2 separate regions of the Homo sapiens genome follow, and region 2 is linked to region 1. Evidence: fine-mapped expression QTL. A gene starts in region 1. The other region holds a variant in brackets. All regions are shown on one strand. Distances are from middle to middle.

Region 1 (5,380 bases):
TTTATGACTCCTTCCTTGGCTATACTCCTAAAAGAGTCAAGAGATGTAAACAAAGTGAGCAATTAATTTTCTAGGTATCACCTTTCTCACCTATAGTAAAACAACAACAGAAACAACAATCACTGATAGCAGCGGACACTCACATAGCATCTTGTTTGCCAGGCATGTCTCTAAGGGCTTATGTGTACCAGCGCATTTAATCGTCCCAGTTGCCCCGTTATTATCTCCATTTCACAGAAGTAGCTTGCCCAGAGTCACACACAGCCAGTAAGTGGGGTGGTAGGATTTCAGCCTGGGCAGTCTGGCTCCAGAGTCGTGCTCTTATCTGCTAAACTAGTGTTGCCCCTGTGGGATGAAAGAGCTAAAATGAAGAATCCCTGGGGTCCTGTTACCTGGGAACATCGCTAATGTAGCATGGAATCCTGCAAATAATGCTAGAACGGAGTAATGCAGTTGCCTGATAAGAGTTCACCGGCTCCTGTCATCCTCTTCGTCCTCCCATTTGTGTGTTTGACGAGCTTGGGGTCTCTGTGTTTGTGAGTGCATGTGCATGGATATGCAAGTGTTTGTATAATTTTATGAATGGAACAGAGTCCGCAGTGTGTGAAGCAAGAAAGCCTGAACAATCTATTGACACAATAAAGCACTCATAATTGATGCTGTTAGTTATAGATAACTCATCATCGTTTCCTTTTTATCTTAAGGTTCCCAGGCACGTTGGCTGGGAAATGTGTCATTTTATAATTGGAGTTTCACCCCGGTGGAGCAGGAATAGGATGGGATTTGGCTGTCTACTGTAACCCCATCCCCCCAAAGCATGTCTGTACTTACCGTCTGAGGAGGGTGCTTCCCCTCCTTGAGCTGATTTGCCTGTGCTGTCCAGAAGCATTGCTGGATATGATTATCCAGTAGAAAAGGAGCTAATCGACAAACTTTTCACTGGCATAACGTGTCCACATTGCTCTTATTGCTCGCTAAATATAGAGGTTGCCAGGACCCCTTGAAATTTTGATTCAGAAGATCTGGGAGAAGCCTGAGAATATGCCTTTTTAAAAAACATGTGCTCTGAGTGATCACCTTCATGGATTTTGGGGAAGTCTTAGGTAGCAGGTCTCAACCTTCATAGGATATCAGCATCACCAGATTCTTTTGAAAAAAGTACCACTTCCTGTCCTTCTGCTCACTGCCTGCCCTAATTTGAATAACTGATCTAGGGTGGTTTCCAAGTTCAGGATTTAAAAAAAAAAAAGTCTCTAGAGGTTCTTGTGTGCAGCCATAGTTGGGTACCTCCAGCCCAAGAAGTTCTGCTGATAATATCGCACCTATACATTTAATTGCACTTCACATTTTACAACTCTCTTTCACCATTGAACATCGTAACAATTCACTAAGGTCAGTAAAGCAGGCATTATTATATTGTCCTTGGCCGAGAGAGGTTGACTGAATTGCCCGAGGCTGCACAGCTTCTCCCTCAGTCAGCAGCAGCTGTTCCCTACTTGGCTCATGGCCAGTCCTGCCAGTTCTTTTGGAAGGGGCAGCCTCCACTCCCCTGAGACTCACAGGATGAAATCAATTGCCTCTCCTAGTGCTGATGCTCGCGAGGCTCTTTCTTCCCCTTCTCAGCCACATCTTTTCTACTGCAGCCACTCTTCCTGCTCAGAGGGCCTCTCTCTGAAAGGTGCAGTTGCGTTCCCCTCCCATGCTCCATCCCACTTAACGGTTAGGTCATGGCACTGAGGGATGGACAGCTTGGAGCCTGGACAGTCCACATCCTCCACCGTGGTCTGAGGACAGAGACGTGCTGCCCCCCAGCTCCAGCCCCTTCGATGCCATCCTGCAGAAAGCACTGTGCACGCTGCATGGCAGGAGCCAGTAAAGTTCCACACCCCCATCCCAAATTCTCACATCCACCACCAAAGCTTCCTTCACCCCTGCATCCCACCGCGGATAACCTGAAAGCCCACCTGAGTCCTTCCTGGGAGGCGGCTGTGTGGGGCTGGAGCCCCCTGCAGTGGTGAGTCCCACTCCGGACACCTGGCCAATGGGAGCTTAACAAGGTGGCCAGCGAAAGAGAAACAGAACCCGGTAACGGCATCTGCCCCTTCCGCCATCCTCCACCCCGCAACCCGCTGCGGGCTCAAAATCTCTCCTCATTCAAACCGAGGACTTTTGTTTCTCTTTACTGTTCCTCTCCTTGTCCAGACCTTTTCCTTCACACAGGCTGTATCTTGGAGAGGCTCCCAGTGACTGTAGACTTCCTGTGTCAGAATCCTGCAGCCTCTGTCCCTGGGCTGCTTGGGCGGAGTGGGAGGCTGCGGGAGAAGGCGGGGTTTGCCTTGCAGGCAATGCGGGCAGGGGCGCTGCACCCAGGGAAGAGTTCCAAATGCTGATTCTCCCCATGGCCTTTACCTACCTACCTATTCAGCAGCCTTGCAACTGAGACGAAGCCACCCCCTAGCAGACTTTTGCAGGATATCGTTCACTTTCCTCTCTCAGGCCCTGCCCACCACGGGTTGTTGGTTTTGTGAGTTGGTGTGGGGGAGTCAGCAGGGTCCTCAGTGACTTTTGATCTTTCAGCGCTGACTTTCAGGAAAGGTAAGCTCTCTGCCAACAAAGCTGGTCTCCGCTGTGCCTCCTCCTCTTATACAACAACCCTAAGTGGCTTTCCTGCCAGGTGAGAGGATTTGCAAGGACTGCGGAGGAATATGGGACCGACGAGCTCTCCTTTCTCAAAACAGAGGGAGCCTTGGTGCAGATGCACAAAGTGGTCCTTGAAGTTGCATGTGGCCCGGAGCGGCTGGCTTGGTGGATCTTTACTGTTCTGGTTGGGCATTGTCAGGCAGCTATCAGAGGGCCCAAGAGTCCTTCACAATAACTCGTTATCACCCACAAGCAGCCAGCCAAGTTAGTACCTGCTTGACCCCGTCCTGCTGACAGTGGATTGGACCAGGGTTGAGCCTGAGAGCCAGCCAGCATGAGCCTCTTTCCTAGAAACCGTTAGTCAGGAAAAAAACGTTCTGGTTCAGTCTGGGCTAGCCTCTCTATGGGAGAGATGGAAAACCTCCCAGCCATGGGAGCTGGAAGGGGTCGGATCCATCCTCCAGCTCCGCTTTCTCCTTTTGTAAATGCCAAAAAGAATTGGGGTCCTGAGTGATGACTTGATTGGCCCAAGGCCACGTGGCTACTATGACTACTTTATAACAGAGCTGGATTTTGGAGTCCAGTGTGTTAATTCACTTACTCCCTTGGCTAAGACACGGAGCTTCTGAAAATAATCTCTTATGAGAGCTTCCATTCAGCTCAGACTTTGAAGAAATGATAGTTCTTGCATACTATATACAGAGAGAGCACAGGTCTCAGTATCAGACTGATCTGGGCTCAAACCCTGGCTCTCCGAGTCACTAGTATTGAGATCTTGGGCACATTTCTCATACACCTTGTGTTCCTCCAGTATAAAATGGGGATCACTCTGGTCTCACAGAAACATGGTGAGGGTGTTCTATTGAGTAGAAGATACGCTTAGCAAATACTCATTGCTAAATAAAACAAGGCTTCCTGGTCAAAATGAGTAATAGCTCTCTCCTTCCTAGTGCTCTGATTCTGAAGATGGTGTAGTTGTGGAATTATTTAGTGCCCTCATGTTTGTGGTTGGGACCAGAGAACAGGGGCCTTTCTTTTGCTTTTCTTCAGACCCCGAGAGCCTGGGTGTCATCAGTCAGCCCACGACCATCCCTTGTGGGCTTGGGAAAACTCAGACAGAGAGGGAAATGTGAGACTCTGGCAATGTGAAAAAAACAAGTACCTCTCTATTACTTATTTTCTAGTCTTGTGAAGTTTGTTCAACCTACAACCCAGCATTGATTCAAGGCCTCCTCTGTGACCCCACCCCAGCGGCAGTGCGCCCACTGGGTAAGATAAAGTGAGAGGTGCAGGGACGCACAGGTAGAAGGAGATCCTTCAGGCCTGGTCACATCTGAGGTTATGGGGCGGTGGCCTGATACTCCTGAGACAATACGCTTTTTGATACTCTTTTGAGGGTGGCTGCAGAGGACATTGGCTTGTACCTCTGGCCCCTCTGTTCATTCTTCACCTCATAGAATGAACATTTGCAGGCCTGCATTGAGACACTGTTTTGTCCTTGTTATGTGCTTCATGCCCTAAATCACCACATCAGAATTCAATTCCTAGTCACTCACCTGTCTCCAGAACAAATCCCTATGGAATATCCATCTTTCTAGACCCAGAGAGGGTCCTGCCTCTCTCAACCCTCCCTCTCTCCTCATGACTCGAAATCCTAAATCTCCTTCAAAGACCACCTAGCTCATATCCAGCTCTTCATGAAGTCTTTATGTGGACTGGACCACTCCTTTTGCACTCAGCAGAGGTTACCTTGTGTTGCTGTACATTTTTAGACTGTAAGAGTCCTTTCTAGAGATACATGTGCCACCAAACCCTCACCTCAGGGGGGTCAACAACCTAGTTGAAAATACGTCTTAAGTGTAGTTGGGCTGCCATTTTCTTGAAGGCAGGGCCCTGTCTCATCGTTTTTATTCCTCAGAGCACAATATCAGGGAACTATAGGCTGCATGTAACAGTGGCATTAAAAAAAGAGAATATTTTTTATCTCATATGAAATGGAGTCTTGAGGAAGGACAGCTTCAGGATTCGTAATGCATCAGTTAGCTATTGTGACATAGCTAACCAATTAAAAACCGAAAAGTTTGAAACACCACCATTACTTTATAGCTCCCAATTCAAGCAGGTCAGCAATTTTGGCTGGGCTCAGCTGGGCAGCTCTTCTGGTCTCACCTGTGCTTCCTCATGCATCTGTGATCCCTCATGCATCTGTGGTCATCTCTAGGTTGATCAGGTGGTGCTGCTGGGGGTTGTGTGGCTGTTGGCCAGGGAGCCTCAGTATCCTGCCCATGTTGCTCCCATGTCTCTAGCAGGGCAGCCTGGAGTATCCCTCTTGAGACGAGATTTGGAGTTGGTGCAGTCACTTCTGCTGCAGTGCTGTTGACTAAGACTCAGTAATGAGGAAATAGACTCTGCCTCTTCGTGGGAGGAGCTTCAAGGTCACATTGCCAAGGGCAGGTGGAGCATTGGAAGCATTTTTTGTAGTGGGTCTGCCATAGCCAATGATGTTAGGGCTTGAAGAAGTCTGTTCTTAGGACTTGCTTGGCTTTTTGCCTCATGCTCACAGATGGCAGCAGCAGTTCCAAGCATCATGTCCTCACACAACAGTGTGTGAAGGCAGGAAGGGTTGAGCCTAAGGATGAGGAAAACTTCCCCAGCTGTCTCCTATGAGCCTTTCCTTAGGCTGTGGTTAGGGCGGGGCTGTCCTAACCAGAATAGACCAACGGCTAGGATTACCATGATT
Region 2 (5,380 bases), 29 kb before region 1:
GTGTAGAACACAGTTTGGGAACATGAAGAAAGAGAGCTCCCCACATGGGCTCTGGACTCAAGACTGAGCGCATTTTTTGAAGGGTCTCACCGTGTCACCCAGGCTAGGGTATAGTGGCATGATCATAGCCCCACTGCAGCCTCCAACTCCTCGGTTCAAGTCATCCTCCTGCCTCAGTTTCCCAGGGTGGGACTACAGGCATGTGCCACCATGCCTGGATAACTTAAAACAATTTTTTTTTTTTTTGTAGAATGGCTGCATTTGAAGCCTGCTCAGGTACCCACTAGCTCTGTGAGCTGGTAAATTAAACTTCCTGTCCTTCTGTTTTCTCATTTTTAAAAGGAGGCTAGGAAAAGCTTCTACCTCATACCTCTTAGCAAAGTGCTTGGAATGCAGTATGCATTCAAAAAATGCTTATCATTAGCTATTACTATCTTTAGTCAATATTTATTGAAAAGTTAGTAAACAGAAGAAAGTTACAACATTTTATCATAAAGACTTAGCTACTGTCCATGACCCCATTGGAGATGCAGATAGGACACCAGAGTTAGACAACAGGTTGCTATCATTTCAGTGGTAGAGTTAGGTCAGAAAATGGACAAGGAAGAGCAAAAATTCAGACCAGTTTAATATAAACAAAGTGAAGATCTCTGTAGAAAGCTGTGGTAGGAGGAGAAGTAAGCAATAGTAAGAATGAAAAAGTTGGCCAAAGTTAGGCTTTTGAAATTAATTTCATGATCCATGTTCAATTCTCTTCTTCTAGGCATAGAAAATAGAATATTAATGATCTCTGTATTGTATTTATCTTCCAAGCAGGAATGCAAGTAGGCATATTGGTCAGGAGAGACAGGGTTATGCTGCAGTAACAAACAGCCCACAAAGCTTAGTGGATTATAGCAAAGGACTATTTACTGCTCAGACTACATAGCCATCCCTGGCATTCCTAGGGTTCTGGTCTATGTCTTTCAATCTGGGTTGTAGGCTGATGGGGTTGCTACCTTCTCAAGTGCTATGGATCATTATGGCAGAGGAAGAGAGCATTGGCAATTAAGTGCTGCAGGCCAGATATGACACATGGCACAACTTATCAGCTAGAACTAGTCACATGACTCTCACTCAATCACATGAAAACCAAGAAAGACACAATCTTACCATGTACCCAGGAGGTGAACAAGCTGGAAATGTTTGTCAAATAGCAGCAATGACTACCATTGCCTGCCATTAGGGTCACAAAATGTTTGTCTCCCCCAGGCAAAATCCACTTACTTACTGCCTAAGGAAGACAGCCTAAAAGTCCTACCCAGTCCTGGTATCAAGCTGAAATGCTAGGGTCTCTTGTGGTGTGTAACAGGGCAGTTTTCACCTTAGGGAGCGGCATGTTCTAGTCTCCACATCAGGTGTGAATGTGGATCCTTTCCTTTCTGAGACTTAGGCTCCAAAAAGATAAGTAATCGTTTCTTTCCCACAAGACAAGAAAAGATTCATTTGAAGTAGGACAACTGCAATCAATATTCTCATTCAGAAAGGGGGAAGACTAGGGAAGCACAGCAGTCACTGGTCCATAACGACTCTGAAATCCTGTGAAACACAATTCGACCCTCACTTAGCTGCCTGGGAGTAGATCCCAGCCCACCGTTCTCTGCTTATGGATTGTCCCTCTGGAGGGTCTTCTTTCTGTTGCCCTCCTTGCTCCTATCAGAGATGGGAATTGCAGATGATATTGAGCAGCTTTCTTGGCCGGCTTCTTGTCCATGATAATTTAGGGGCCCAACGGTACATTACATTTTGAAAAGTCGTGAATGGTTTCGTTCAGGTCATGGTTCCTTTGGCAGGATGACTGTCTGAAAATCTTCTTAGGCTTTTTCCTATGTGTTTCGGGCAGATCTATGTACTGATAGCCAATAACCACACCTATGGTTACAGTTGTTATCCTATTCTAAAGGAGCCATTGTATGTCGTGCTATGGGATAGAGGCAGATAATTTGTCTTTTGGGTTTTTAAGTCTC[T/C]GAATTGCAGAAATCCATATTCAAAACTGATGTAGAGACTAGCACATGTCACTCCTTAATATAAAAACTACTACGCACTGCTAGAGAACCTAGCATTTCAGCTTGATACCAGGACTGGGTAGGACTTTGGGGTTATCTTCCTTAGGGAGTAGGTAAGTGTATTTTGCCTGGGGGAGCCATGGTTCTTCTCAACTTGAACCTAACAGCAATAATTTGGGTATATATATTATTTGTGGGATGTTACAGCTTTAGTCTTGTTTTTTCTCTCGCTCTTACTTGAGCCAGTTTGCCCAGTTTGAATGATTTTTTGAAGCCATAACTTCAATTAAACTTTTGCCCTAAATGACTTATTCCATTCAGAGGAACTGACAATGGACATGACTGCCCTGTGCTTGATTTGTTCCATGGCATGAGCTGAAGCACTCATCAGTCTTTCTTGTATAAAGGTCTTTTAAGTTTTGTTTACTTCTTTGGGGAATGAGAAGCAGCTGTCTCTGTCTACACTGAAAATCCCCACATTTCTGGACTCTCTCCTGTCCATTTCATCTCTGCTTTCTGGCCAAATCTTTTCTGAACTCATCAATATCTTGCACTACATTGTCAGATGCAGCCAGCAGTGGCCACCATACAATATAACAAGCTGTTTTTCAACCATCTTCCTAGATATGCAGGATTTTAGGGATATAATCTGCTTTCTAAGTTATCACAGATGACAGTTTTCAGAATATTTTTCCATTTGTAACATGGATTGCCTGCAATGGCCTCCTATAAAATTTCTTCAATACCTGTCATCTGGCCACAGAACCAATGTCACAAGTATTTTTTTAATTTTTAAAATTTTATTTATTTATTTTTTTGAGACGGAGTCTCACTCTGTTGCCAGGCTGGAGTGCCGTGGTGCAATCTCAGCTCACTGCAACCTCCGCCTCCCAGGTTCAAGCGATTCTCCTGCCTTAGCCTCCTGTGTAGCTGGGACAACAAGTGTGTACCACCACACCCAGCTAATTTTTGTATTTTTAGAAATTGGGTTTCACCATGTTGGCTGGGATAGTCTCGATCTCTTGACCTTGTGATCTGCCCACCACGGCCTCCCAAAGTGCTGGGATTACAGGTGTGAGCCACCATGCCTGGCCATGTCACAGGTTTTAACTTTTTACTTTTGGCAGCTTCTTACTTCAGTTTGGGTAGACTTGATTCTGCTATGGGAAGAAATCAATCCCTGAATACCAGAGGATTAGAGCAATAAGGGTTTGTTTCTCACTTATGCTACTATTGCTTCGGCTGGGGGCCAAGCTTCCTGCCACCTTACCCTGTAATGCAGCTCACTCTGACAGAGCAGCCACCATCTTGAACAAAGCTGGTCATTGTGGCTGGCGTGAAGAAAGCTCTGGGGGCTTTCCCATGAGGAATTAAATATTTTGGTTCAGAAGTGACACATACCACTTCTGCTTATAACTCACTGTCCAGAACTACTTGCCTGGTACCACACAGCCACAAGTGAGTGAGACAGTAAAATTCTCCATGTTCCTGAAAAGTAGAGAGCTGGAGACATTTGGAAAACAGCATTAATGACTATCACAGGAGGAGAATTGGATGAAGATGTAGGCTGCAAACTTAGGATACTAACAAGCTCTCTTGGGATCCTCCCCGAAAGGATAAGGAGTTCGTTATAGATTTATTTCTTGGCATGGATAGTAATTTCCTGAGGCTGTTGATTGGTGTGGCACAGATGTCTAATGCATTTCTTTTCTAATATACAGCTTCACCCAAGCGAAAGCTGTTAGATTTTTCTCTACTGAATTATGGAACATCATCATCACCATCACTACTTTGTAACTGACATCATCGTCCTCATTAAAAATTGGACTAAGCAGCTAATTATAAATAGTGCTTTTGTATAGCACATGTGTTTTCATTTGTCCCCCTGACTCCATCCACTTGGCCACAGGGGAAGCCCAGGAGGAGGGAAATGGCCACAGTGCATCCAGAGACGAAATGAATAGAAGGGAACTTCAGGTCAAAGCGTTGTGCTATCAAGTGTTGGCAGGGAACATCAATGAGTTTGTGGAACCAGTGGGTGCTACTGCAGGAAATTAACCCTCGAAGTTCAAGATATCTGACTTCTTTTTAATGTAACTCTCAGATGACCAAATTTTTGGTGTGTGTGTGTGTGTGTGTGTGTGTGTGTGTAGAAGGAGGGGAACAAAAGGAAAACAGCAAAAATTGACTGCAAAGTATAGAATTACCCGGTCATCCATTTTTCTCCCCTTCTTCCCCAGGATTCAATGCTGTCTTCTCTCTCCAGCAGAAAAAGTAGGAGAAGGTTAAGAGAAGGAGTAAACATGACCCAGACCCTGGGGAAAGGGGTGAATGAGGGGACCAGAGAAGGGAGTTGGGCCAGGCAGAACGCTGTGTTTGGACAGAGGAGCTTCCACTTGGAACACGCTGAAGAACCAAAGCTCGAGGGCAGAGCCTTGCCCAGAGTGAGATGGTGAGAGGAGGGACACGGGCTCAGACTCATCACCCCTGCTTCTCACTGGCTCTGAGTGGTTTGGATTCCACAGTGGAAAGCTCAAGAGTGGGGTGGGTCATTCTAGGGAGGGTGTTCCGTGCTTGTGCACAAGTGTTGTGTTCTCTCAGTAAGAGGTAAGGGAGCTGACGACTCGCCACCCTGTCCTCAGAGCAGGGGCCTGTGGGTGACAGGACCATGAGGAGAACCATTTTCAGAGGTTACACAGAGAAAGAGGAAAACTTCAGGGATCGTATTACCAGAATGATGACAAGTGCACACACACACACACACACACACAGCAAAATAAAAATGTAAAGAAGCCTGGAAGACAGATCATTTATGTCATTTATATACCTGGAATAGGTACATTTTAGAACCTAGGGCAGAGGTCAGAATATAAATGGTTATCACACAATGCTTCACATTATCTGTGCTCATCTTGTGGGCACATACGTCCATTCTTAGGTGGTTCTTCCCATGGATGCCCCCCACGTACTCCTGACCTGTTGCAGATCATGTGTTCCACTGGAAGGCCAGCGTGGGCCCAGGAGGATGGGGCCCCTGGGGTCTAGTCCTGGTTGTTGGTTTCCAGGAGCTCTCCATCTCTTGGCTTTCCTTTGACTTCACCTACAACCCCTCAGCCTCCTATGCTGGCTGCCCTTCCTCCTGACCTTGACCGGTAGATTGAAGACTGCTGTGAAGGACTTGGTCCTGGTCATTTCTCCTCGTTGTCCATATTCTGTTTCTGCAGAAGACCTTGGTGCCATGAATGTATATATTTCTAGATGTCTTAAATTCATAAATCGTAAGTTTCTTTTTCATATTCCAGACCTAAATAAATAACTGCCTCCTTGATGTCTTA

The links.
Region 2: its variant is fine-mapped to the expression of KCNA6-AS1 in aorta (GTEx, PIP above 0.99).

Annotation. Positions count from the first base shown.
Region 1 is chr12:4,828,466-4,833,845 of GRCh38, forward strand. KCNA6-AS1 (KCNA6 antisense RNA 1) reads right to left here and starts at 2,306. Exons shown (of 3, transcript NR_199077.1): 1 at 1,965-2,306. It also overlaps a transcript of KCNA6 not described here. RefSeq lists enhancers at 945-1,134, 1,195-1,354, 1,784-2,285.
Region 2 is chr12:4,799,640-4,805,019 of GRCh38, forward strand. KCNA6-AS1 (KCNA6 antisense RNA 1) reads right to left here. Exons shown (of 3, transcript NR_199077.1): 3 at 4,846-5,380. Among named protein-coding and RNA genes, the nearest start is that of KCNA6, 7.0 kb to the right of the region's middle. The variant T/C (reference allele first, on the strand shown) is at 2,007.